7 linked regions of the Homo sapiens genome follow. The protein of the gene in region 7 interacts with the protein of the main gene of each other region in a pairwise test. Each region holds a gene or a part of one and is shown on either strand. Other genes may lie near its edges.

Region 1 (3,500 bases), on a different chromosome or scaffold from region 7:
TCTCTCACAGAGATATAAAAATAGTGCATAACAAATGTCAAAATGGATCAAGGTTTGGCAGGGTTAAGGTTAGAAAAGAATACTCCAAAAAATCTGGAGGATCATGGTTAAGTAACAAATAGGGAACACTGACAAATAAATTAGTAAAAAGCTCTTCTGAAAACAGCATCAACTTTAAACATTAAAAACTTGAACCACAACCACAATAAAACAGCAGAGTTAGACATGAACCACATATTTTTACAGTACAAAAAAGCACACCACAGACAACCAATATTAAGATCAACACTTTGCTCACATGAAGGATTGTCCCAAGGGTTTGCTATAAGGCAACACCCTTGTAATTTTCTCTCTTTAGAGTCAAAAATCTTAGTTCTGCATTTTTAAAAAACATTTACCATTGTTGGGTGCTTTGCTTAGATTGCAGAGTAACTCTTACATTAAAATATAGGGGCTAGTTGCATTAAAAATGCTCTAAAGAGAAAAAATATCACTAATGATATTCTAATAGTGTTCAGTACCAAGAGAAACTCATTAACTACTGCATGTTTCCATGCCACTTTCTCAAAACACCCCAAAAAACCTGCAAGCAAAGTCATTACCAAAATTCCTTCATGAAAATTTTCAAAAAAGCAATTCTCAACTATTAAGAACAATGTTCCATGCAACAGTGACCCCAGTTTAGACAGAAGACCCCAATATTTATAGGTTAAACACATAAGCAAGTTCAAGCCAGATTTCACCATTGTCTTATAAAGGTAAAATTTAATTTTATGCAACTAGCCATCTGTATATTTCCCCTTCTCCATTTTGACTTTACTTAGGGTTTACTAAAGTTTTGCATTCTTCTAAAAAATTCAGATTTTTAAATATGGGTTTCTTATGGGTCTTACATTTGGTGACTGGTTAGCAGTGTGCTGGCCATCTTTGGTTTATAAAGGATGTCTTAACCATGGACTATCAAAGGGGCTAAAACCAACTTTCTTTAGAATTCTTGTATTTTCTTTTACTCATTCTTTTATCTATACTATATCACTGCACATGAATTAGAACCGCACGTCACAAAATTGCACAGGGATTACAAATATTACATCCAGTCTGCATAAAATCGAATTCCACTACTGACCAGATCACAAAATGGCTGCACTCTCTAATCTAAAACTAATTTGCATATTGTACACATGTAAGACGATTTTTTAAACTTGAAGTCACAATAATGCATGCAAGTTTGCTTTTTTAAACAAATTTTATAATTTGTTCATGCTACCTAGATTCAAGAGAGCTTTTTTGAACATTTGCAATACCTCACCTCGTTAGTTAATAATTCTAGTGCATGCATATGGTGTATACAGGTAAGTAAACATGCATTTTTTTCACATTCTAAAACTATGGCAGTTTAGGCCATATTGTGCTGCCTGCATTTTATCTGCAATGCAGTGTGTCTCTAACGTTTTCAGTCCCGTATTAATAGGTGGCATTTACACATAACACCTATATAGCAGCAAAGCTAATACAGCTTGTGATTAAAAATGTTTAAAAATAGCTAATAAATCAGATTATCTTGAGGTATTATTTCTTGCAAGTCAAAATGGAGAGCAAAAAAATCAACCCTAATTTTTAGTTTATGTATACACTGAAAATAGCAACAATAAAAATAAGCATTTGTAGCAGACATATTCCATCTTCACTATTATTTTGCTACCTTTGGTAAATTACTGGGGCAGATCTTGAAGTTAAAAACCCATGTTTAGAAATAAGTGCACGCTTCCCCCACTATATAGCAGCAGACTGTGTTGCCCCTACGCAAAACATTCTCATATCTAATTTTAACTTTACATATAAAAATAACTTGGAGAAAATACAAAAAAACATTTTATTTGAACATGAAAATATCACAAAAATTAGTAAGCCTGAGATGTAGGGTTTTGGTGAAAAACAAGAGGCTTGTAGTGTTTTGGCTGCTGATAAAGATGCATGTATTGATAGCTGGGGTGAAAAGCAGAAGAATGCACTTATTTCTTCTGCATGTCAGTATCTTCAGACACAGTAAGCCACATGCACCCTTTCTTTCCTTGTTAAACAGAGGCCAGTTTGCTATTCTTAGTTCCAGCGGAAGTGGATCTGACGTGGGCGATCAGCACCTTCCTTTACCAATGGCTTATGGAACTCACGTCCAGCACGAGAGTGGATATTTGCCCAACAAAACTCACAGTAATACTGCAGGCAAGTGACATTGGCACAAAAAAAGGGAGCAAATTTTCCACCACAGCGTGCGCCCTGGCATTCATCACACATCTGGTCATCTAGCACATATGGCTTTACCTCCACCTTGAAAAAAAAGAAAGTTAAGTCTCATTAGGGTCTGCTTCAGAAATCAAATTCTGTAATAACTTAAAATGTTCTACAGCAGAAAAAAAGGACCAGCATTAAAAGCTGAGGAAATGGGCAGTTTCTCAAGGAAGGAGCTTTACAATGTAGTAGGTTAAAACACTTTAAAAATCTATAAAAATCTGATTTGCAAAACATTCCACTCTCACCTTTCTTGAATAACATCTTTGAAACACCTGTGTGCTGGTATTTTCAGAGTTAGGGGAGATTATGAGTGAAAAACAAAAGAGATATCAAGTAGTCATGGAAGACAGTTTCCACACCTTTTCCCCTCATTCCAGTATCACCTGTGAGATGGCAGAACCCGAACAGCCACTGATTAAGGCGGCGCCTCTCCACTGCAGGTGCGAGTCACACTCTGCTTGGAAATAACTGGCACAGACAAGCCAGAACTGTGGAGAATCTTACAAAGGGCATGCCTAGACTTCTGTAAATTTATAAGATATAAAGCACAAGTCCCGTTGTGAAGGTCTGACTTGGCAGAACACTTCAGACTGGAGTCAGCTCTGAATGATAAACTTCTCCACCTCAGTTTCCACATCTGTCAAGTGGGAATAACAGATCCTGTCAGAGTTGTGAGGCTTAAATTGTGAATGTAAAAGCATAAGACAGTGCTCGGCACATGGTAAAATATTCTATAAATTAGTATTAGCTACTATTAGCTGCAATAGCCTTGCTTTCCTGCTTGTGATAACTTTATGAATGGAAGGTTTTTACTGTTGTTTGGCTGAAAAGTGCCAGACAGCATAACAGCTCAGCCGTTCCTTAGGAGACAACAGAACACTGAGTGTTCTGAAGGACTGGATTGACATAAAGTAAAGGTTGCCTATAGTAAAAAGTAATGACCCAACAGTTTGTATTCTGAATGTATTCTACTGAAATACTTGCATGAGTGCAGAAAATGAATATAAGGATATTTTCCGCAATATTATTTGTAAGAACAACAACAAACTAGAAACAACCTAAAAGTTGATTACAAGAACTGTAGGATGTTCATTTGATAGACAGGTAATGGAATTACATTGTTGTTTATATTTCATTGATTAGGATTAGGATAAATATATTTTATGTATATTCGACACTTGGCTTTTCTGAATTGCTTGTTTGTATCT
Region 2 (3,500 bases), on a different chromosome or scaffold from region 7:
AGGAGAAACAGGACTAAAGCATTTGATGCATTACGCCTCTGATGGCTAATTACCAAGTCATGTCCATTTCGTCCTCCTCATTCCATAGGAATCTATGATTTTCTCGTATAACATCCAAGTCTGTCTTGTCATTTTCCCTGGAAAACAGAACTTTTTCAATTTAATACAAAAACAAAAGTAGTCAAATTTAGGTTAAATAGCTCTGTGAGTTTTGGAAAATTTTATTAAAAATATAATACATGAAGATAGTTTTTTGGTGAGTATAAATTTGTTCACATATTTATAAAAATATTTCAGTATTTTCAAAAGGCACTTATAAAAATACTACTACAGAAGCAAGTTAAATGGATAAGGAATCTGTCTGTAGCATTGGTTTCAATTATACAAATGGTGCTAAGTTACCAAAGCTAGAATGAGAAACCTGACTAAACACTAAATGAATAAAGTGAATGAAAATAAGTTTCATTCTAACCAACCACTCTGCTGAGATTTAATTTTAAAAAATATGAAAAGTTTTCCGTATCTCATTTTACTAGTTTCCTAGGTAGAAGACTGAGTAAAGGAGGAAGAAAGCCAAAGGGATTGACCTTTCAAAATAAAATGCTAACAGTCTGGGGGTAAAAAAAAAAAGGAAAAAAAAAAGTGATTGTTGGGAGATATAGGATAAATTGATAGGTGAGATAAATTGGGGGTAAATGAGGTGGTACTAAATTTTCTCAGAGTCCTACCAACTCAGAAAATTGTTAGAGGGAAAAAAAAAACCTCACATAAAACTAAGAAGTTCTAAGACACACACACACTATAGCAGCACAATTCGCAATTGCAAAGCTATGGAACTGACCAAAGTGCCCATCAACCAATGAGTGGATAAAGAAAATGTGGTGTGTGTGTATATATATATATATATATATATATACACCATATATATATATATACACCATATATATATATATATACACACATACATACACCATATATATATACACACCATATATATATACACACCATATATATACACACCATATATATATACACACCATATATATACACACCATATATATATACCATATATATATACACCATATATATATATATATACCATATATATATACACACACCATTTATATATACCATGGAATACTACTCAGCCATAGAAAGGAATGAAATGATGTCTTTTTGCAGCAACTTGGATGGAGCTGGAGGCCATTATTCTAAGTGAAGTAACTCAGGAATGGAAAATCAAATATCATATGTTCTCATTTATATGTGGGAGCTAAGCTATGAGGATGCAAAGGCAAAAGACTGATATAATGGACTTTAGGGACTCAATGTGGGGGAAGGCCAGAAGGGAGGTGAGGGATAAAAGACTACATTTTAGGTATAGCATACAGTGCTTGGGTGATGGGTGCACTAAAATCTCAGAAATCACCACTAAAGAACTTATCCAGGCAACCAAAAACCACCTGTACCTCAAAAACTATTGAAATAAAAATAAAAATTTAAAAAAACAAAAACAAAACAAAACAAAAAACAAGTTCTGATAGAAGAGCCTTAAACATGGGAAGGACTTTGATGTGCAAGAAATGCTAGACTGAGAGTTCTTGTTTACCTATCTTTTAAAAAGCAATCCCAAACATCAAGGTATAAAAATTTCCTTATTTCAAAGATCTTTGCCAAGAAGACACATGAGTATTCTTCAGATATTCTTTTATCACCAGGGTTGTGCCCGGCTCAGCAGGTAAAGAGTCTACCTGAGGCCTGTCCAAAAAAATGGGATTCATGAAGAGCTACTCAGGAGCTGTGGATGGTATCTCTACCTTATAATATAAAAAAGAAACTGGGGCCAGGTGCAGTGGCTCACGCCTGTAATCCCAGCAGTTTGGGAGGCCAAGACAGGTGGATCACAAGGTCACGAGTTCAAGACCAGCCTGGCCAAGATGGTGAAACCCCGTCTCTACTAAAAATACAAAAATTAGCCAGGCATGGTGGCAGGAGCCTGTAATCCCAGCTACTCGGGAGCCTGAGGTAGGAGAATCGCTTGAACCACAGCGGCACAGGTTGCAGTGAGCCGAGATCAAGCCACTGTTCTCCAGCCTGGGCGACAGAGTGAGACTCCATCTTAAAAAAAAAAAAAAAAAAAAAAAAAAAAAAAGGCACACCGGAATAGAAAGCAGGGAAGAATGACAGAATCAGAAGGCACAGTAGCTGTGGGTCTTTAAAGTTTCCCATAACCCACATTCCCTTCTATGTAAACTTCCTGATACTTACCCCAAACGCTTGAAGTCTTCTTTTTTGCCACCATAGTATAAAATATAGTCATTTACGAACTTTGTATGTCTTTGATACTGAAATGCAAAAAATTAAGGATTTTATTCTCTTAGGAGCTGTTTGGTGTCATAATATATTGCTGATTGGTGGTAAAAAAAAGCACAATATGAGTCTATTTAGCTTTTTAAAAATATTCACACACTATACATGCTTACACATTCAGAAAATCTAGAAGGGTATATATTAAATTGTTGAAAGTGAAGATTGTAAAGTACAGGCTTTCTTTTGACTATTTTTCAAGCATATACTACTCTTGTGATAAAAATATACCTCCATCTGGGGAGAAATAGAGCTTCTTATTCTATTGCTGAACTGCATATAGCCTCCTACCACCACTCATTCTAATAATCACAATATGAAAAATTTAAAAATTATAGTTTCTAAAAGTAGAGAATTTATCTTTCATTATCATAAAATATAATTTATCTATTTTAGTAATGATAAAGCCTCTAAATAGAAGATGCAACTTTTATAATTATATTTATAATTTATAATTAAATCCCAACATTAAACTTTCAAAAAAGCAAATATAAAAAATCAATTTTTATAGTCTTTTAAATTCAAAGAATAAAATGCCATGTTTTTTCAAAGCATTGTAACAAAATATATGAGCATTTTACTTTTTGTTTTAAAAAGCTCAACAGCACTCTCTCTAGAGCCAAACATGCACATAATAGCTAACCTCACCTTCTACAATATTCTCTGTGACTATTAAACATGTATAGTGATTTAACTGATCATAATGTGTACTAACAGACAATTTAATCAGATTATGGTATTTCCATATTGTAACAAACCAGTTAATATTTCAGGAAAAAAAAAAAAGAGAGAGACAGAAAAACCAAATACCTGGAGATCTGGATTCTAGCTCTTGATCTACCACTAACTGGTCACATGACCATGGCAAGTCATGTAACCTATTAGAGCTGGGGTCAGCAAACATTTTCTGCAAACGGCCAGATGGTAAATATTTCAGGCTTTGCAAGCCATATGGTCTCTGTTGCAAATGCTCAGTTCTGCCATTTTAGCATGAAAGCAGCCAAAGACAACATATAAATGAAGCATGGCTGTATTCCAATATAATTTTATGTACAAGAACAGGTGGTGGGTGTAACTTTTGCTTCCGGGAAGATGGAGTAGGCAAAGATGTACTTCTCCCTATTCCTCATACT
Region 3 (3,500 bases), on a different chromosome or scaffold from region 7:
GGATTTTTGGTGCTCTCTTTAGATTATAAGCTTTTAATATTAAGATGATTTAATGGACCTTTTCTGAATTCTGAATTACTTTGTAGCTATGGCCATGCTCTGTTACCTGGTGAAGGTGCAGCTATGGCTGAATATGTAAAAGCTGGAAAACGTATCCCACGAAGAGGTGAAATTGGCTTGACAAGTGAAGAAATTGCATCATTTGAATGCTCAGGTTATGTAATGAGTGGTAGCAGGTATGTTGTTGGCATTAAGCTCAGTTTCCATGATTAGATCTTTTTCTTCTTTTTTACTACCAGAATTATATTTTGGTAATTGATTTTCATTAAGTGACTGTTTCTTATGAAAAGTAGAGTATAAATATTGGTTTGATATTAGTGTTGTTAGTATAACATGGTTTTCTGCAATTCCAAGTATATATGCAACTCAGCCTCAAACTCAGCTATATCTCTGACTTCAAAGAATCAATCTTCCTAATGTCCTTTCCTAGTTGGTATTTGCTTACAGATATTTTATCCACTGGAGGATATAGTTAAATTCAGCTATTTATCACTGCCCCATGAGGAATGTGGCAGTTAGGAAAATATTTTCACAAGACAGTGTTTCCTGGTTACAAGTTTGTCTTCAGTTTTTTATGGACCCAGATTTCTGAGACTGAATAACAGAAAAAGATGATAAAAGACATTGGTCAGCTGAGAATATATCCTGGCTAATAAATAAATGAATAAATAAATAAATTTTAAAAAGACACTGGATTCAGCATGGGAAATGAATATAAAATTAGGAAAGAGAAAAGTTCCAGGAAGAACCAGGAGAATGAGCAAATAGGGCAGCAGTACTTAGATCAAATTGAATTTTGGATTCTTTAAAACTTGATAAACTTTTTTTTTAAGTAGATAACTATTTTTAAATGACACTGAAGGCAAATATTTGCAGAAACCCTGAAGCACCTCCAGAATCTTGTAATACTGAGGACCAATATTTGAAGCATTGCATTGGAGGACCCACACAGTAAGGCAAGAAAAAGAAATTAGAGACACAAGGATTGGAAAGGAAGGCTGGGCACGGTGGCTCATGCCTGTAATCCCAGCACTTTGGGAGGCCAAGGCAGGCAGATCACTTGAGTCCAGGAGTTCAAGACTAGCCTGGGCAACATGGCGAAACCCTTCTCTACTAAAAACACAAAAATTAGCCAGACGTGGTGGTACACACCTGTAATCCCAGCTACTCAGGAGGCTGAAGCAGGAGAATCGCATGAACCCAGGAGGCGGAGGTTGCAATGAGCCAAGATCACACCACTGCATGCCAGCCTGGAGAGCAAAACTCAGCCTGAAAAAACAGTAATAATAATAATAAGGATTGGAAAGGGCGATATAACAATGTCATTTTTTAGCCAGGCGTGGTGGCTCACGCCTGTAATCCCAGCACTTTGGGAGGCATAGTTGGGTGGATCACCTGAGGTCAGGAGTTCAAGACCAGCCTGGCCAACATGGTGAAACCCTGTCTTTACCAAAAATACAAAAATTAGCTGGGCATGGTGGCGGACACCTGTAGTCCCAGCTCCTCAGGAGGCTGAGGCAGGAGAATCACCTGAATCCAGGAGGAGGTTACAGTGAGCCAAGATCGTGCCATTGCACTCCAGCCTGGGTGACAAGAGTGAAACTCCGTCTTAAAAAAAAAATGTCATTTTTTTGTGAATGACATGGTGAATGATTTGATTGTTTACATAGAAAATCCCAAAGAATCTCCAGATAAATTATAAATGAGAGGAGGGTTTAACAACTGGTTGGATATAAGGTTAGTACACAAAAATCCATTGCATTTCTATTTACCAGCAACAGACAACTAGAAAATGTAACTAAATAAGAAGAAAACATTTGTAATAGTATCAGAGAATATGAAGGACTTCAGAATAAATCTTAACAAAAGATGCCCAGGGCTCTGTGAGGAAAACTATAAAACATTATTAAGAGATTGTGTATTCAATACAGTTCCAATAAAAATGAACTGCATTTCTATTTACTAACAACAGAAACCTAGAACCTTGAACGTTTATAACAGTGTCAGAATATGAGAGACTTAAGAATAAATCTTAACAAAAGATGCCCAAGGTTCTATGGGGAAAAATGTAAGACATTAAGAGTCCATATCTTCAATATAGTTCCAATCAAAATCACAACACAGTTGTTTATGAGACTTATTAAGCTGGTTCTAAAATTTATATATTACACTAAAAGGACAAGAATAGCCAGGTCACTTCTGAAGAAGAAGAGCAAGAAGGTAAGATTAAAGAAAACTTAAATAGCTGGAGAGATACCAGGTTCACGGATAGGAAGGCAATATTGTAAAGTTGTCATTTCTTCCCAAATTGATCTTTATATTCAATACAGTCCCAATCAAAATCAGAACACAGTTTTTCATGAAACTTAATAAGCCAGTTCTAAAATTTATATACTAGACTAAAAGGACAAGAATAGCCAAGTCACTCCTGAAAAAGAAGAGCAGGAAGGTAAGATTTCCCCTACAAATAGGAGGACTTATTATGAAGCTTACAGCACTTTAGAAAGCATAGGAGAACAACTGAATTGTTCAGTGGAATAAAATTCAGGCCGGGCGTGGTGGCTCATGCCTGTAATCCCAGCACTTTGGGAGGCTGAGGCGGGTGGATCACCTGAGGTCAGGAGTTCAAGACCAGCCTGGCCAACATGGTGAAACCCCATCTCTACCAAAAATACAAAAATTAGCTGGGCGTGGTGGCTAGTGCCTGTAGTCCCAGCTACTTGGGAGGCTGAGGCAGGAGAATCGCTTGAACCCATGAGGTGGAGGTTGTAGTGAGCTGAGACCTCGCCATTGTACTCTAGTCTGGGCAACAAGAGCAAAACACTATCTCAAAAAAAAATAAAATAAAATTCAGAGCCCAAAGATAACCATACACGTATGGAACTTCAGTGTATGAAAGAGATAGCATGTCAGATCAATGGGGAAAGAAAGAACTATTCAGTACATGAAATAGGAGGCTGAGGCAGGAGAATCGGTTGAACCTGGGAGGCGGAGGTTGCAATAAGCCGAGATTATGCCACTGCACTCCAGCCTGGGTGACAGAGGGAGACTTGGAAGTTAAATCCACTGATAAAAACTGCTGTTCAATTACAGATTTAGACTTGGTTCTTTTTTTTTTTTTTTTTTTTTTGAGACCTAGTTTCACTCTTGTCTCCCAGGCTGGAGTACAGTGGCGCAATCTCAGCTCACTGCAACCTCCACCTCCTGGGTTCAAATGATTCTCCTGCCTCAGCCTCCCAAGTAGCTGGGATTACGGGTGCCCACCACCACACCCAGCTAATTTTTGTATTTTTAGCAGAGACGAGGTTTCACCACGTTGGCCAGGCTGGTCTTAAACTCCTGACCTCAGGTGACCTGCCTGCCTCAGCCTCCAAAAGTGCTGAGATTACAGGCGTGAGCCACCATGCCCAGCCTAGACTTGGTTCTTTTGGTTTTATGGT
Region 4 (3,500 bases), on a different chromosome or scaffold from region 7:
GCAAGACTCCATCTCAAAAAAAAATCAAAAACAAAATCCTTTGCTAGATTCTGCTAAGATTTCCTTCAGTATTTCCGTGTCTTTTTCAGAAGTGACACTAGATTGTATTTTCTGAGACAGGGTCTCGCTTTGTTACCCAGGCTGGAGTGCAGTGGTGTAAATGCAGCTCACTGCAGCCTCAATCTCATGGGCTCAAGTGATCCTCCCACCTCAGCCCCCAAGTAGCTGGGACGACAGGTGAGCACCATTTTTCTATTTTTAGTAGAGACGGGGTTTCACCATGTTGCCCAGGCTAATCTCAAACTCCTGGGCTCAAGCGATCTGCCCATCTTGGCCTCCCAAAGTGCTGGGATTACAAGCGTAAGCCACCATGCCTAGCCAATTATATTTTCAGTCTGTGCATTGTCCTTCCTGCCTGATGTAATAGTTACCCTAGTCTTGGGGAATGATCTGGGTACCTTTCCTCTATTTCTTTTCTCTGGGAACAGGAAACAGATCTTCTGCTGTTCAGGAATGGGATGGTTGTAGTTTTACTCTAGGATCACCTGGCTCGTGCTTGTAAATGGATGAAAACCTGGGCCTAGGAGCAGGCCTGGGACGAGGGAACAAGAACTGAGTCTGAGGGTGGCAGACTGCTTTCTGACTACACTCGGTGCCCAGCCTCTGGGGGCTGTTTCCTGGGGGCAGGCTGAGCTGAGGGAGCCCCGTACCAGGCTGGGTGGTGGGCGGGATGGCAGGGGCAGGTGCTGGGGCCGGGGGTGGAGCAGGCGGTGGAGGCGTGGCCTTGACTTCAGCCTCCATCTGCGGCATCTGGAGCTGCTGCTGCTGCTGTTGCTGCTGCTGCTGCTGCTGGGCCAGGCTGGTGACAAACTCCTCGTGCTGCGTCTTGAGGGTCTGGATCTGCTGCTGGAAGGCCAGCTGCACCGGCTGGACCACTGAGGAGTACTCGTTGATGAGGGTGGCCTGAGAGAGAGAAGAGCACCCGCTGCTCAGTATGCGGCCTTGGGGCTCGCTGCCTGGCGCCAGAGGACAAACGCCTGGAAAGCAGCAGAGCCTGGGGGACCTGGGGCAGGTGGACAGGGAACCGTCACGTGAAACAGCCAACACAGTCTGGGCAATCAGTGTGCGCTGGGATCTGGCCAGAGATTTGGGGATGAGGATGTTCGCTGCAGCGTGTTTTACGACTCCCTGATAACAGAACGAGCAACGACAGCCGTGTCCTGGCCGCTTCGTGGCTGCTCAGCGAACACTGCCCACCAACATTCTGGGACACGCTCATGGGCTCTGCCTCCCACTCGCCATGTGGCTCTCAGCAAGAGGGGCTGCCACAGCCTAAGCCACGTCTGGGCTTCCTCATGCTTCCACCACACCGGAACATGCCTGACCACCAGAGCAAATGGGCCATGTGCAATGACTCCGAAAGGCCGCCTGGTTCTAGTGTTCCAGGAAAGTCAGGGAGACACACCTAAGGCCTGGGAAATGTCACCTGGGACTCTCTGGTCAACACACACTGGCTACTCCTAGCACAGGCAGGGGACATGGGCTCTCTGGCTGCTGGGGTGGCAGCTGCTGTCCCCACACTCCCAAACCCTCCTGGGGAACCCGCCCCAGCTCTAGGGTGAGGTGTGGGTGGGCAGGGACACTCACCTGGTACTGACCAAGCCCCAGGGCTGGGCTCTGTAGCTGCTGAATGATGGAGTCATCGAAGTAGCCGTTTTTCTCCCAGAGCTGCAGGAGCTGGCGGTGGGAGGAGAGAGAGGCCGGGTCAGTGGGGAGGGGAAAGGCCTGTGTGTCCCGGTCTTGCCCAACCCCCGGCCCGGGGCCCACGCACCCGGGCGATCTTCTGCTGCTTGTCTTCCTCCACGGCCAAGAAGCTGGTGCAGTAGATGGGCACCACGACCTTCTGCAGGGCGGCCAGCAGCTCCCGGGCCTGCTTGCGCTGGCTGTGAGGGAGAGACTTTCCGCGCGTCAGGGCCCTGGGGCGGGACCCGGCCACGCGCCCGTTACCATCGCGGCTCCAGCCTCAGCGCCCTCTGCCTTCTCGGGAATCGGGTCCCCAACCCGGTCAGGGCGATGGCTGGGCTCCCACGAGACCTGTGCTGGTGCCTGGGCTCGAGGAAGGGACAGATGGAAAAACAGCAAGCAGGGGAGGGAGAGAACGTGGCCTGGGGCCGTTCTGAGCAAGGCCTTTTGGTCCAGTCCCCTTGATAGGAAATAACCTTCCCTCCTTCCCTCTTGGGTGGCGCTGCGGGTGAAGGGATATGGGCCGGCGGGAGCCCCTGCCTGTGTATGATGGGCGGGATGGGACTGCTGCGGAGTGGGGGTCTTGTCCTTGTCACTCACTATGCACAAGGAAACCTCGGCCCAGGCCAGGCCTCTTGGGAGAAGGAGGGAGGGTGCCCAGTCCCTCAGGAACCTAGAACACTTTAGAAGAGTGACCGGATGCCCAGCGGGGGGAGGCGCCGGGCCCATGTCCTCTCAGGGCTGCTGTGCAGTGCTGCACAGGACACTGTGCATACCTGGCCTGGGAGGCCCCTGCCGCTGCGCAGGGAGATGGCTGCCCCTGGGGAGGGACGCAAGACAGGAGGGGAGCAGCTGGAAGCCCCTCAGCCCTCAGCTTGCCGCAGGGGGCTCAGGGGAGCAAGGGCCTGGGCTGGGCGAGCAGCACTTGGCTTCGGACAGAGTAGAGCTAGAGAGGCGCGTGGCTGGAGAATGCGGGAAACTGTGCATCCGTGCAAGGCACCCGACTCAGAGGCAGGGAGAAATGGAGGCATGAGGAGGAGCAGAAGGGCAGAGCTGGTGCCGAGCCGCAACTCACTTCCCAGCAGGAGAGAAACAGGGACTGAGGTGGGGAGGCAAGAGGGACTCAGGCAGTGCTGCATGTGATAGATGGGGCGAGATGGGTGCTGGCAGCCTGGCCCACTGTAGAGGCACACGAGGCGCCAGGCCAGGACTGCTGCCCGCTAGGCTCAGTAGCAATGCTTGTCTCCTCCCGCACGTGCGGGCCTTTGGCCTGGGGTTCTATTGTTTTTTTTTTCTTTTTTGCTAATTTTTGTGAGAAGGGCCCCAGTGACCCTGTAGAAGGAAATACCCACCCAACCTTGGGGAGGGTGGAGACAGCAACAGTGGGAAGGGTGAGGGCTGGGTGGGGACAGAGGGTCGGCAGATGTGGCTCTGTTGAAGCCTGAGAGATGGGTCAGGGCTGGAGAAGGGGATCCCAAAGGAGGGTCCTGATGGCTGAGCAAAGTCAGGTGACCGCGTGTGTGTGCGTGCAAATCAGTGACGAGGGCAGGAGACAGACACAGAGGCCAAGGAGGCCGTGGCTGAGAAGGCAACAAGGAGACGCCAAGAAGCTGCCCCATGAGAGGAAGGAGTGCAGGGGACAGTGGCCCCCAGGAGACAGCAATGTGACAGGTGAGGCCGGGGTCTAGGGGAGAGGACAGGGCATGCAGCGAAGGTGCACAGGACACCTAGACCTCGCAGTCCTGGAGACAGAAGCC
Region 5 (3,500 bases), on a different chromosome or scaffold from region 7:
GTGCTCCACATGGCTGCCTGCCCCAGTACCAAAGCCGCCTTCTCTTCTGCAGCTGAGGCCTGCTTTTTTCACTGACTCAAGACACTGGACAATCAGTCCTAACTCAGTCATCCCTCAGTCCAGGAAGTACTTACATTTCCTTCTTTTTTGAAAAATCAAGTTCACAACTATGCTAGGAAGTACAGAAAAACAGGGAAGATGTGATTACCTGCTGGCTGGAAGAGACAGGCATAAGATGCAAGGGAGCCTGGTATGGGGAGAATTATGCTACGAAAAGGGGTAAGCCAAAGCCCAGCACCATTTTGCAACCCTAAATATGGATCTAGGCAATGGCCATCAACAGACGCTAAAACCTCAAGATGGAGGAGCAGTGGAAACCTATCAGGGAAGAGGCAGGCTGCCACCACTGGGGCCCCTCATCCATCCTCCCATCAGCAAAGGTGGGGCCACCAGACCTCACATGCCTCCTGAAGGCATCTAAGAGGAGGTTCACAGTGCCACATGCAGGCATCTCTGCCACACGCAGCTCAGCCGGGATCTAATTGAGCGGTTGGACTCATCGCCAGCTTACAGCAAGTGCACGAAACACAGGCACAGGTTAAACACCGCTGTGAGCAAGCAATGAGGCAAATACATCATATGGACTATTCGACAGGACAAATGACCTGGCTGCTCCAATAAATCAATGTCATGAAAAAAAGCGTGGGGTGGAGCCTGTTCTAGAATGAAACAGTTAACACACATAAGCAGTTGCAATGCCTGGATCCTAATTCAAGCAAATCGATCATAAGAAGTTATCTTTGAGATAAATGGAGAAATCCAAATGCGGACTGGAGACTTAGGTGACATTAAGTATTCATTTTTTTATGAGTGATAACGGCACAGAGGTTATATTTAAAATTTTAAGTCCTTTTAGTCAGAGACACATACTCAAGTATTTATGGATGAATAATGTATGAGATAAGCTTTAAAATATTCCAGAAAAAAAAAATGGATGTGTGTGGAGTGGGGTAGGAATAGTGAAATTGAACAAACGTTGACAATTATAGAGGCAAGGCAACGAATTCATGGTGGCCTGTTGTACTGTTTTTCCCACTTTCATGAATATTTGGACTTTTCAATAATGAGTTTTTTGGTTTTGTTTTTAAAGGCTCAGCCTACCAAACAACTGGAGTGGGTGGTGGGGAATCAGACAGACCCAGCCTGCTGGATCACAGCCTTTATGTTTGCAGAGAGAAGTAAGTGGGTTGGATGACCGCAAGTCTTCAATACCAAGCGGAGGGAACACCGACCCCACAGGCAAACAGCACCCCTGCGAAGAGCACAGAATCCTCACCTGCCGTGACTTGCCCGCCTGTTTCACGCTATAGAACATGGGGCCCAGCTCCGCCAGCCACTCCCCGTCCACAGCGGTCACACACTGCATATACTCCTGCGGGCAGAAGGGCAGGGAGGCGAGGGTCACAGGAGGGCCAATGTCCCTCCCAGAGTGGTTCCACAATTAGGAGCCACATGGGAAGGGCCCAATCCCTGGCCCTGCAAGGCTGAAAAAAGGAAAGGAAAAACCCCAGATACTCCCATCCAAACTCCTCCACACTTGAGAAAATGCCCCCAGTATCTAAAAGAAAAGGCCCAACCCCTCCGAAAATCCTTCTAATGACACCAAGAGGGGTTGCTCATCCCAAGCAGCAAGTGGGGAACAATCGTGCCCATGCAGCTGAGGTCAATGCAGTCTAGAGGTCAACCCTGTGCAGAGCTTCCCCAAGTCCCCAAATGAAAACCAACCTCACATGCCCCGCAAAACAATGCATGTGGCCTCAAGGCTCCCAGGCTAAAAGCTCATGCCAGAACGCAGTGAAGGGTTTCAAAGCCTGGCCAGACAGGGGGCCTGCATTATGCAAGTGCCTTGGAAAAGACTCACCTTGGTGGTCATGACCAACTCGTGATACACTATGTAATCTGGGGTGTAGCCCATTCCAAAAAGGGAGCTGGTGGGGTGCAAGTGGCAGGGCATCCCTGTGCGGATGTTCACGTACTCCCCGATTCCCTAGGGAGGAGACACAACAGGCAGCCACATCAGGAAAACAACACCCATTTGGGCAGCGACCCCATCCCTTAACACTCTTGACACAGCCTTTGGCGGAAGCCCAGATCTGCAGAACCACACCAGGACAAAGGAAGAACTTTGCCCTTATACAGGTATCAGGCTGGGAGGGGCTCACTGGGCTCCTGGGTTCACCTTGAGCTTGGCTGCTTGGTGGAAATAGGCAGCACAGATGCACTTCCTGACGATGTCCCAGTCAGTGCCACACGAGGCCAGGCTCATCCGCTGCTGCACCATGATGTCCTTGAGTTGAGCTCGCACCTCCCGGACCTAGGGCAGGAGACGGAGGCACCAGGAGGGAGCCCTCCTTTCCTCTCGACCCTCCCCTCATCCCAACATCCTGCTCATCCACCACTCTACCTTCCGCATGGCCTTAGCATGGATGAAATGATCGTTACACCAGATGGTGGAGTAATTATTGTTCTTCCACTGCAGGTAAACATTCAGGTAGGTCAAATGATCGCTCTCAGGAACAGCGAACTTCTCCCGGATTTGATCACTCTCCTCCTCTCGACCCTAGGAAGGGAAAAAGAACCTTCACTCTAAGTACAGGGGGGTCCAGGCCCACTGAGCACATCCCAGAGGTTCTAACACTACCACCTACCCACACATAGAACTTCAAACATGTCAATAGGTTGCCCTGACAATTTGAGAAAAATTAAAATAATTTTTAAAAAGGTCTACTCTAAAACATGAGGGCTCAAGAGCAACCATACTAGAAGATAAAAAATGCTCTTGCAAATTTCCAAAGCATTCCCTGAGAACCACTGGCCCAGCCCTTCCTTTCCCCTACCCCAACCTGCTTAACCGAGAACAGCAAAATCATTCTTCAGAAACTCTGATTCTGCCCTCTGTTCCATTTCAGTAATACAGAGAGAAGCCATTCCCCTCCCCAACACTTCCTCGAGCCCTCCGGGGAGAGGGGAGCCAGCCGCTGCCCCACCTTGGGCCTGTAGAAGATGGCTGGGACCGAGAGCATGGAAACGATGAGCAGGATCTCGGAGCTGCAGCCCATGTCACAGGACACGATGAGCATCTTGGACAGGGCAGGGTCCAGCGGGAACTCCACCATCAGCCGCCCGGTAGAGGTCAGACCACCTAGGAGAGATGAGCAAACCCGGATATTTGACGGGACAGTAGAGGAAAGAAGGAAGTCAAGCGCCAGCACCCATGAGGCTCCCGGGGCCGCCTCACCTGTGTTGTCCAGGGCCCCGAGGATCCAGAGCTGATACATAGAGTTGAGCATGTTGTCCTCCGGGGGCGGGTCCATGAAGTGGAACTGCAGCAGGTCCTGCACCCCGAGGGACTTGAGCAGCAGCACCACGTTGGCCAGGTTAGTCCTCTGGATCTCGGGCACTGTGGTGGTCAGGAGCTCATTCTTGTAGGCGCTCTGGGT
Region 6 (3,500 bases), on a different chromosome or scaffold from region 7:
GAGATCACGCCATTGCACTCCAGTCTGGGTGACAGAGCGAGACTTGGTCTCAAAATAAATAAATAAATAAATAAATAAATGGTATTACATGTACAGCAGAAAATTGATCACCACATGGCTATCATGATGACCCTTTCCAAATGTTTCCCCAAAATTAATTTCAAATGATCTGTCCATGTGTCATTTCTCAGACTATATGAAGTGTTTTGGTCATCTCCACAAATTTTACATTTATGAACAAATCAGAGGAATTACGTGCTTATACCACAATAAAGGGCCAGGAAGAATATTTATATTACTGCTAGTCATTACTTAGTCTTGAAAAACTTCCTCAAACTAAATATTAAAGTGGCAAACAACCTTTTTGTACTCTTTTGTGCCTATATATGACTTGCCTTTAAAAGAATACAAAGTAGAGCCGGGTGCAGTGGCTCACGCCTGTAAAACCAGCACTTTGGGAGGCCGAGGCGGGCGGATTGCCTGAGCTCAGGAGTTCACGACCAGCCTGGGCAACACGGTGAAACCCCGTCCCTACTAAAATACAAAAAAAAAAAAATTAAAATTAAAAAGTAGAGGTCTAAGGTGTCCAAAATCAGATACTTGATGGTACTTGCAGATAATGACTACTTTTAAATGTTCCAGAACCCTATGTCAAATTCATTGGTTATACTATCTTACCAACAAATCCTTTGAGCTTTCTTTCCTCCCAAATTATAAGTATCTAAAATCCTTAATTCCCAAGGTCATCCCAAAACATCACATCTCTTTTCATCTACTCCAACCCGTAAATGTTCTATTAACTGTCTACCTCTTAATCTATCCATGGTGCAAATTTCCCAATGCTAAACTCTCTTTCATTTCCTTATCCCTGAAAATTTCAGTACCTCTAATAGAACACTGCTAAATAAACTGCATTCCACTTACTCATTAATATCAAGAACCTGCAGCTCTGTCATGTAATGAAACCAAACAAATAGAGCAAACATTTCAAACAGACTTTTGGTTACCATTCTTTAATAAGGACTAATAAGATGTAAATGTGGTGATTAATTTAGCATGTTTCCTCATCTGTAAAACTGGTGGTTTAAAATATTCTTTAAATTATCTCCCAACTCCAAAAGTCTACAATTCTGTCTTAAAGTCTTAATTTATTCAATCTACTATCAATCCTACCCAGAGCATTTTCCTAAATTCCAAAAACTCAGAAATCACAGATTTCTAAGTCCTAGGTAAGGTTGTCATACGCCAAAGGAAAACCCAGTTAAGTGTGAAATTCCTACTAAATAACTTCCATAAATAAACAAACAAAACCTACCTTGCAAGGAATTCGAGTAACTAAAATGAACACTAGGCAAACAACTATAAAGAAACAAAAAGCTTACAACATATATTATGCAGGGTAGAAAGAGCAGGGGACTGGGAATCAAGGAGCTGCTCCTAGGGGCAGTTCTGCCAAAAGCTATACTTTAAGCAAATGGTAAAATCTGAATATGATGGAATTGGACTAGATAATCTCAAGAATCCGTGCCAAATCAAAATGATTTTAAAGTCTCCTTTGACTTAAAAATCCAAAATCGATACAAAATTCCACAAAAGGGAAGTCAGAGGCGTTACTGCACACAATTGACAACAACGGCTTAAACCTCTGCTAAATGAAATAATGGAATTTAGGTTATGCATTATTCTGGGGAAGTAGATAGCAAAGGATTTAGGGGCTGTATAGCCTTTTAGTTGTCTGATATTTGAGTAGACCTTGCCTTTCATTTGTTTCTCTTTAATTCTTCATCATAAACTATAAAAACTAAGTGACCAACATAAAGTCACAATTTTCTCAAATGAGAAAAACGTATTTATGAGGGCCCAGAAAACACTAAAGATTCTCTCCCTGGATTTGAATAGGACCTTTCCTAAAACATAACATTGATATACAATTATGATTATGGTGCTGTGAATTCTCAACCAGATTACTCACTTTTTAGATTATTCTCAGCAAAATTTTAATCCAAGTTGGCTTCCTCCTGCTACCCAGAGTATTTCTTTGTCACCACCTTCTACCACTAGTAAGCATTTTTTTAATATTAGCCTAAATAAAACACAATCAGAAAAATAAACCTATAAAAACATGATAAAATGCATTCCAAATAAAATGTTTGGAACATTTAGCATGTTGGGATAATATGATTGGAATGGAAGAGAGGTCTTTATAGTGAATGTTCTATTTTGATAGATAAACTATATCTAAACATTGTACCAGAGAGCTATGGACACTTAAGGATAATCTACTGTAAAGGTCTTGAGACCACACACTCTAATCAGAAAGAACTTCATAATGTATCTTGCTCAAGTTAAGTCAATTTTAAAACCATATATTTAAGCCATTATATGCATCAGTTTATTGTTCATTCATAAAACTAATTTTATAAGCACATAAATTGTAAATTTCTGTTACAGTTAATGTTTCATTACCACTGTGAGAGGAGATCCTTAAAAAACAATAGTAAGTCCTATTGGTATAAGTCCTTTTTGATTATTCTTCTCAAACCAGTAAAGTTTTGACATTAGGCACGATTATTTTATCACTTTGTATGTTTTAGAAAAAAAAAGTGAATATATCCACTCCACTCTGTTCTTTAGGAAAAAAGTAGCTTTTCCAAGTACAAGAGATCAACTAACTTGATCATCTTTTTTAGGCAATGATTGAACTTTTCATTTCACAGAGCATAATCCATCATTTTTTAAATTTGGTTCCTTAGATTATAAAGCTAAAGATGCTAACTCTTATGTAAAATTTTTTTACATAAAAGTTGTTACTGTTTCATTTTTTTATTCTAAGGAGTATCAAACTAACTACATTTATAATCTTTGTGAAAGTTTTCAAATCTCATTCATTTTTATGATTCCAATTCCACTTGAGATTCTAGGAGAAAACCTGTGAATGCTCACTACATACTGAAGATTAGAAAAAAATCTAGTAATTTCACTAAACTGCAATTAGGATTTGGACCCAATGCAAATGTGCACAACATAAAATTTCCTATACATTCTATAGATGTAGGAAGTTTATTAATTATATTATTTTGTAAATATATATTATGTATTTAATTTGATTTAATCACATTACATAGGTTGAATTTGGGGGTTGCTTTTAAAGTGTTGAGAGTTTAGTGTTTATTTTTGTAATCCAACAACTTTATCCAAAAATGCAGAAAATTTTTCTGGCTGGCCAGGAGGATAACATTTCAGTGTTGATAAGTCCATTGACTGTAACAGCCCAGGAAGCGTGCTAAAACAAAAGAAGAAAAATATTAGGTAACATGGGAGAAAATTCCATACTTCATCTGCTGCCCACTGATGACTGAATCTAACTTCCAAGAATATAGTGGTACTTCTAAAAACTGCACATGTGAATTTTTATATATTTTAATAAGTATACATACTAGGATTATTAAAGCAATACAAAGAGTACTATAAAATGTCAATATAAATTCAGCAGATACCTT
Region 7 (2,558 bases):
CGGATCTGCACCGCAGGCTTCTGTGTCTCCCACAGCCATTGGCATAAGGAAACACGGACACGGACTACTGGCCCTCAGTGTGCCGTGTGAGCATCCACGCTCCCTCCCACGAACACATGGGGTTCTTGACACAAACTCGCAGGAACGAGAAGGTAACATGGGTCGGGCCCACCCACTGTGTCTCACCACAGATCAGCCTTCTTCCCAACATCAGTGCAGTCTACAGCGTGTCTACTGATTATAGCTAAGCACTTCTTCACTAACCAGTTAGAAAAGAAACCCCAAAAGGCTTTCCATGACAGCCTCGAGAAATTCCGGATTATTTAGCATGTAGATCTCACCTGGTATGTGTTTTATTTCATGCCCTAAGATAAAAAATATTATTTCATTTATACTCAAAGTGGTGGATGGATATTAATCTTTACCTCCAAGATGACTAGCAGATTTATAAAGAAAAAGAAATTTAAAGAACTTCCACAAGAAATAAGTTACACCAAGAATACTGTTATCACTACAAATTTTATTCAGAAACCCATCTTTGTATGTTTTTTTTTTTGTTGTTTTTTAAAAAAAATTCCCCTTATGAACTGGTTTGGTCAATCAACTACAACACTTTCTAGCAGACATAAGGTAAAAATGGCATGGCTCAGAATCGCCCAGATCTTTCACGATCTCTCGACCGCCTCCTGTCACGCTCCCGTCCGCCGCCACCTCCACCACCGCCACCGCCACCGCCACGACCACGGTCTCTAGACCGAGAACGACGCTCCCGGGATCGGGATCTTGATCTATGCCTGCAACCAAGGAAAATAAAGAAAACCGTGCCATCCAAACCACGGCACGCAGCACAGAACCACACCCACTCTCTCAACACGCGCAGCTCCTCAAGCCAACGGCACTGATAAGGAAAAACACTGCTGAAGAGACTGCACGCCGTGACTGAGACACACCCTGATTTCAGGTGTGAAAAGTTTCAGGAGAAAAAAATGTGCAACTTAGAAGTGAACAGGTGTAATACCTTGCATCTTCTGTCTTCTTCTAGAACCAACTCAAATGGTCACAGGAAATCATAATCAAAATGAGCTGGACACATACCATCTTCAACCCTCACTGACCCCACGCTTCAGGCGCTCATAGCTACTGTGTCCATCAGGTTTTTGGGCTGGGGAGAGCAGGCCTGTTTTTCTCTTATGCTTCTTGAATGCTGACAATAAAACAATCGCCACCCATCTATTTACTAGTCCATGTTTAACAGAAGAGGGATGAGAACCTCTCCAGACTCAGAACTCAATCGGTTCGATTCTGACGTCTTGATTTTCTCTGCTCTGTGACCTGTCGTACATTTAAATGTAGGATCAGAGAGATGTGACCGCTGGGCCTGATTCTGCCAGTGTCCCGAAGGGAGGATGCCAGCGATCCCAAGACATAATGAAATGCCCTAAAACCAACAAGCAAAACCAAAAGAAACCCCAGTGGACATGTGAAATATGTAAAGCAAAAGCTTGTCCAACCTGCAGCCCAACACAAATTCATCAACTTGCTTAAAACATTATGAGATTTTTTTTGCAATTAAAAAAAAAGTTATCAGCTATCATTAGTGTATTTTATTTGTGACCCAAGACAATTCTTCTTCCAATGTGTCCCAGGGAAGCCATCCCTGATCTAAAGGAGGTTACAACATCTATTCTTCTTCTTCGTAATATCTGGGAGAATAAACTGCATGCCCACTTTCACCACGAGCCTCATGTCCGCGGCTGCCCAGCTAACCGCCCTCTTGCTTGATTACTAAGATCTGATCTCTACTTGAGAAGTTGGATAATGAAGTTACCTGTGTGCAGGTGAATATTCTTCTCCAAAGAGGACATTTGGATATTTAAAAATATGTACTATGTTCTAAGCACTGCCTTTTAAAAAACAGAAACGACACCTATGCCAAAATTTTTTTTTTGGAAGGGGGAGGGTTGTGAGGGGAGAAAGAAGCCACTGAGCTTAACAACGGGCACAGGAATACTCACTTCTTGCGACGGCGGCCATACAGCTCCCGCCGCAGCTCTCTGGAAATGGGCTTCAAATGCATGAAGTTGCAGAAGCCGCCTCGTGTGCATTCTCTGTGGGTGGGTTGGAAGGAGACATTTACTACCTCGTGTGCACACGGCCCCGAACTGTGCTCAGTCACGTCACTGGCCACTCCTCACTCACCCCATCTCATACTGACGGCAGCAGGCTTCTCTGAAGTCCGTCACGGGTGACAGCTCGGCGTGGATCGGCTGTCCATTAAACCAACGGTTATTCAAGTCAATCACAGCCTTTTCCGCATCTTCCTCACGGCGAAACTGAAAAGACAAAAACAGAAGTGCTTGCCATCCACGCTTTAATAAGACTTTCTCAATTACCAATCCAAGTATATCAGAGAGAGATATACACACTCAGGTATAGTAAGGTGGAATAGTATTACAGGATAATTGAAAAATCCTTTATTTTCAATGAGATTAACTTCAAGATAGTCCAAGATTTTGCCAAATGTTGCCTTCATTTTTCAAATTCAACTGGTTAAAGGA

The links.
Region 1: the proteins of U2AF1 (region 7) and CPEB2 interact in a two-hybrid assay, tested with the Homo sapiens proteins (one large-scale study listed by BioGRID).
Region 2: the proteins of U2AF1 (region 7) and FRA10AC1 interact in a two-hybrid assay, tested with the Homo sapiens proteins (one large-scale study listed by BioGRID).
Region 3: the proteins of U2AF1 (region 7) and NKAP interact in a two-hybrid assay, tested with the Homo sapiens proteins (one large-scale study listed by BioGRID).
Region 4: the proteins of U2AF1 (region 7) and CHERP interact in a two-hybrid assay, tested with the Homo sapiens proteins (one large-scale study listed by BioGRID).
Region 5: the proteins of U2AF1 (region 7) and DHX38 interact in a two-hybrid assay, tested with the Homo sapiens proteins (one large-scale study listed by BioGRID).
Region 6: the proteins of U2AF1 (region 7) and ALG13 interact in a two-hybrid assay, tested with the Homo sapiens proteins (one large-scale study listed by BioGRID).

What each region holds. Positions count from the first base shown.
Region 1 is NC_000004.12:15,064,981-15,068,480, reverse strand, and holds part of CPEB2 (cytoplasmic polyadenylation element-binding protein 2), read right to left. Parts: intron 2,329-3,500; coding exon 2,101-2,328; 3' UTR 1-2,100. UniProt on the Homo sapiens protein: May play a role in translational regulation of stored mRNAs in transcriptionally inactive haploid spermatids. Binds to poly(U) RNA oligomers. Required for cell cycle progression, specifically for the transition from metaphase to anaphase.
Region 2 is NC_000010.11:93,692,593-93,696,092, forward strand, and holds part of FRA10AC1 (protein FRA10AC1), read right to left. Parts: intron 2,346-3,500; coding exon 2,269-2,345; intron 138-2,268; coding exon 54-137; intron 1-53. UniProt on the Homo sapiens protein: May be involved in pre-mRNA splicing.
Region 3 is NC_000023.11:119,926,752-119,930,251, reverse strand, and holds part of NKAP (NF-kappa-B-activating protein), read left to right. Parts: intron 1-86; coding exon 87-236; intron 237-3,500. UniProt on the Homo sapiens protein: Acts as a transcriptional repressor. Plays a role as a transcriptional corepressor of the Notch-mediated signaling required for T-cell development. Also involved in the TNF and IL-1 induced NF-kappa-B activation.
Region 4 is NC_000019.10:16,528,938-16,532,437, forward strand, and holds part of CHERP (calcium homeostasis endoplasmic reticulum protein), read right to left. Parts: intron 1,944-3,500; coding exon 1,832-1,943; intron 1,738-1,831; coding exon 1,648-1,737; intron 964-1,647; coding exon 711-963; intron 1-710. UniProt on the Homo sapiens protein: Involved in calcium homeostasis, growth and proliferation.
Region 5 is NC_000016.10:72,107,347-72,110,846, reverse strand, and holds part of DHX38 (pre-mRNA-splicing factor ATP-dependent RNA helicase PRP16), read right to left. Parts: coding exon 3,299-3,500; intron 3,203-3,298; coding exon 3,048-3,202; intron 2,621-3,047; coding exon 2,465-2,620; intron 2,375-2,464; coding exon 2,240-2,374; intron 2,048-2,239; coding exon 1,922-2,047; intron 1,433-1,921; coding exon 1,337-1,432; intron 1-1,336. UniProt on the Homo sapiens protein: Probable ATP-binding RNA helicase. Involved in pre-mRNA splicing as component of the spliceosome.
Region 6 is NC_000023.11:111,687,670-111,691,169, reverse strand, and holds part of ALG13 (UDP-N-acetylglucosamine transferase subunit ALG13), read right to left. Parts: intron 3,284-3,500; coding exon of another isoform or gene 3,169-3,283; exon of another isoform or gene 998-3,168; intron 1-997. UniProt on the Homo sapiens protein: Catalytic subunit of the UDP-N-acetylglucosamine transferase complex that operates in the biosynthetic pathway of dolichol-linked oligosaccharides, the glycan precursors employed in protein asparagine (N)-glycosylation.
Region 7 is NC_000021.9:43,092,456-43,095,013, forward strand, and holds the end of U2AF1 (splicing factor U2AF 35 kDa subunit), read right to left. Parts: intron 2,334-2,558; coding exon 2,200-2,333; intron 2,109-2,199; coding exon 2,016-2,108; intron 795-2,015; coding exon 647-794; 3' UTR 501-646; downstream 1-500. UniProt on the Homo sapiens protein: Plays a critical role in both constitutive and enhancer-dependent splicing by mediating protein-protein interactions and protein-RNA interactions required for accurate 3'-splice site selection. Recruits U2 snRNP to the branch point.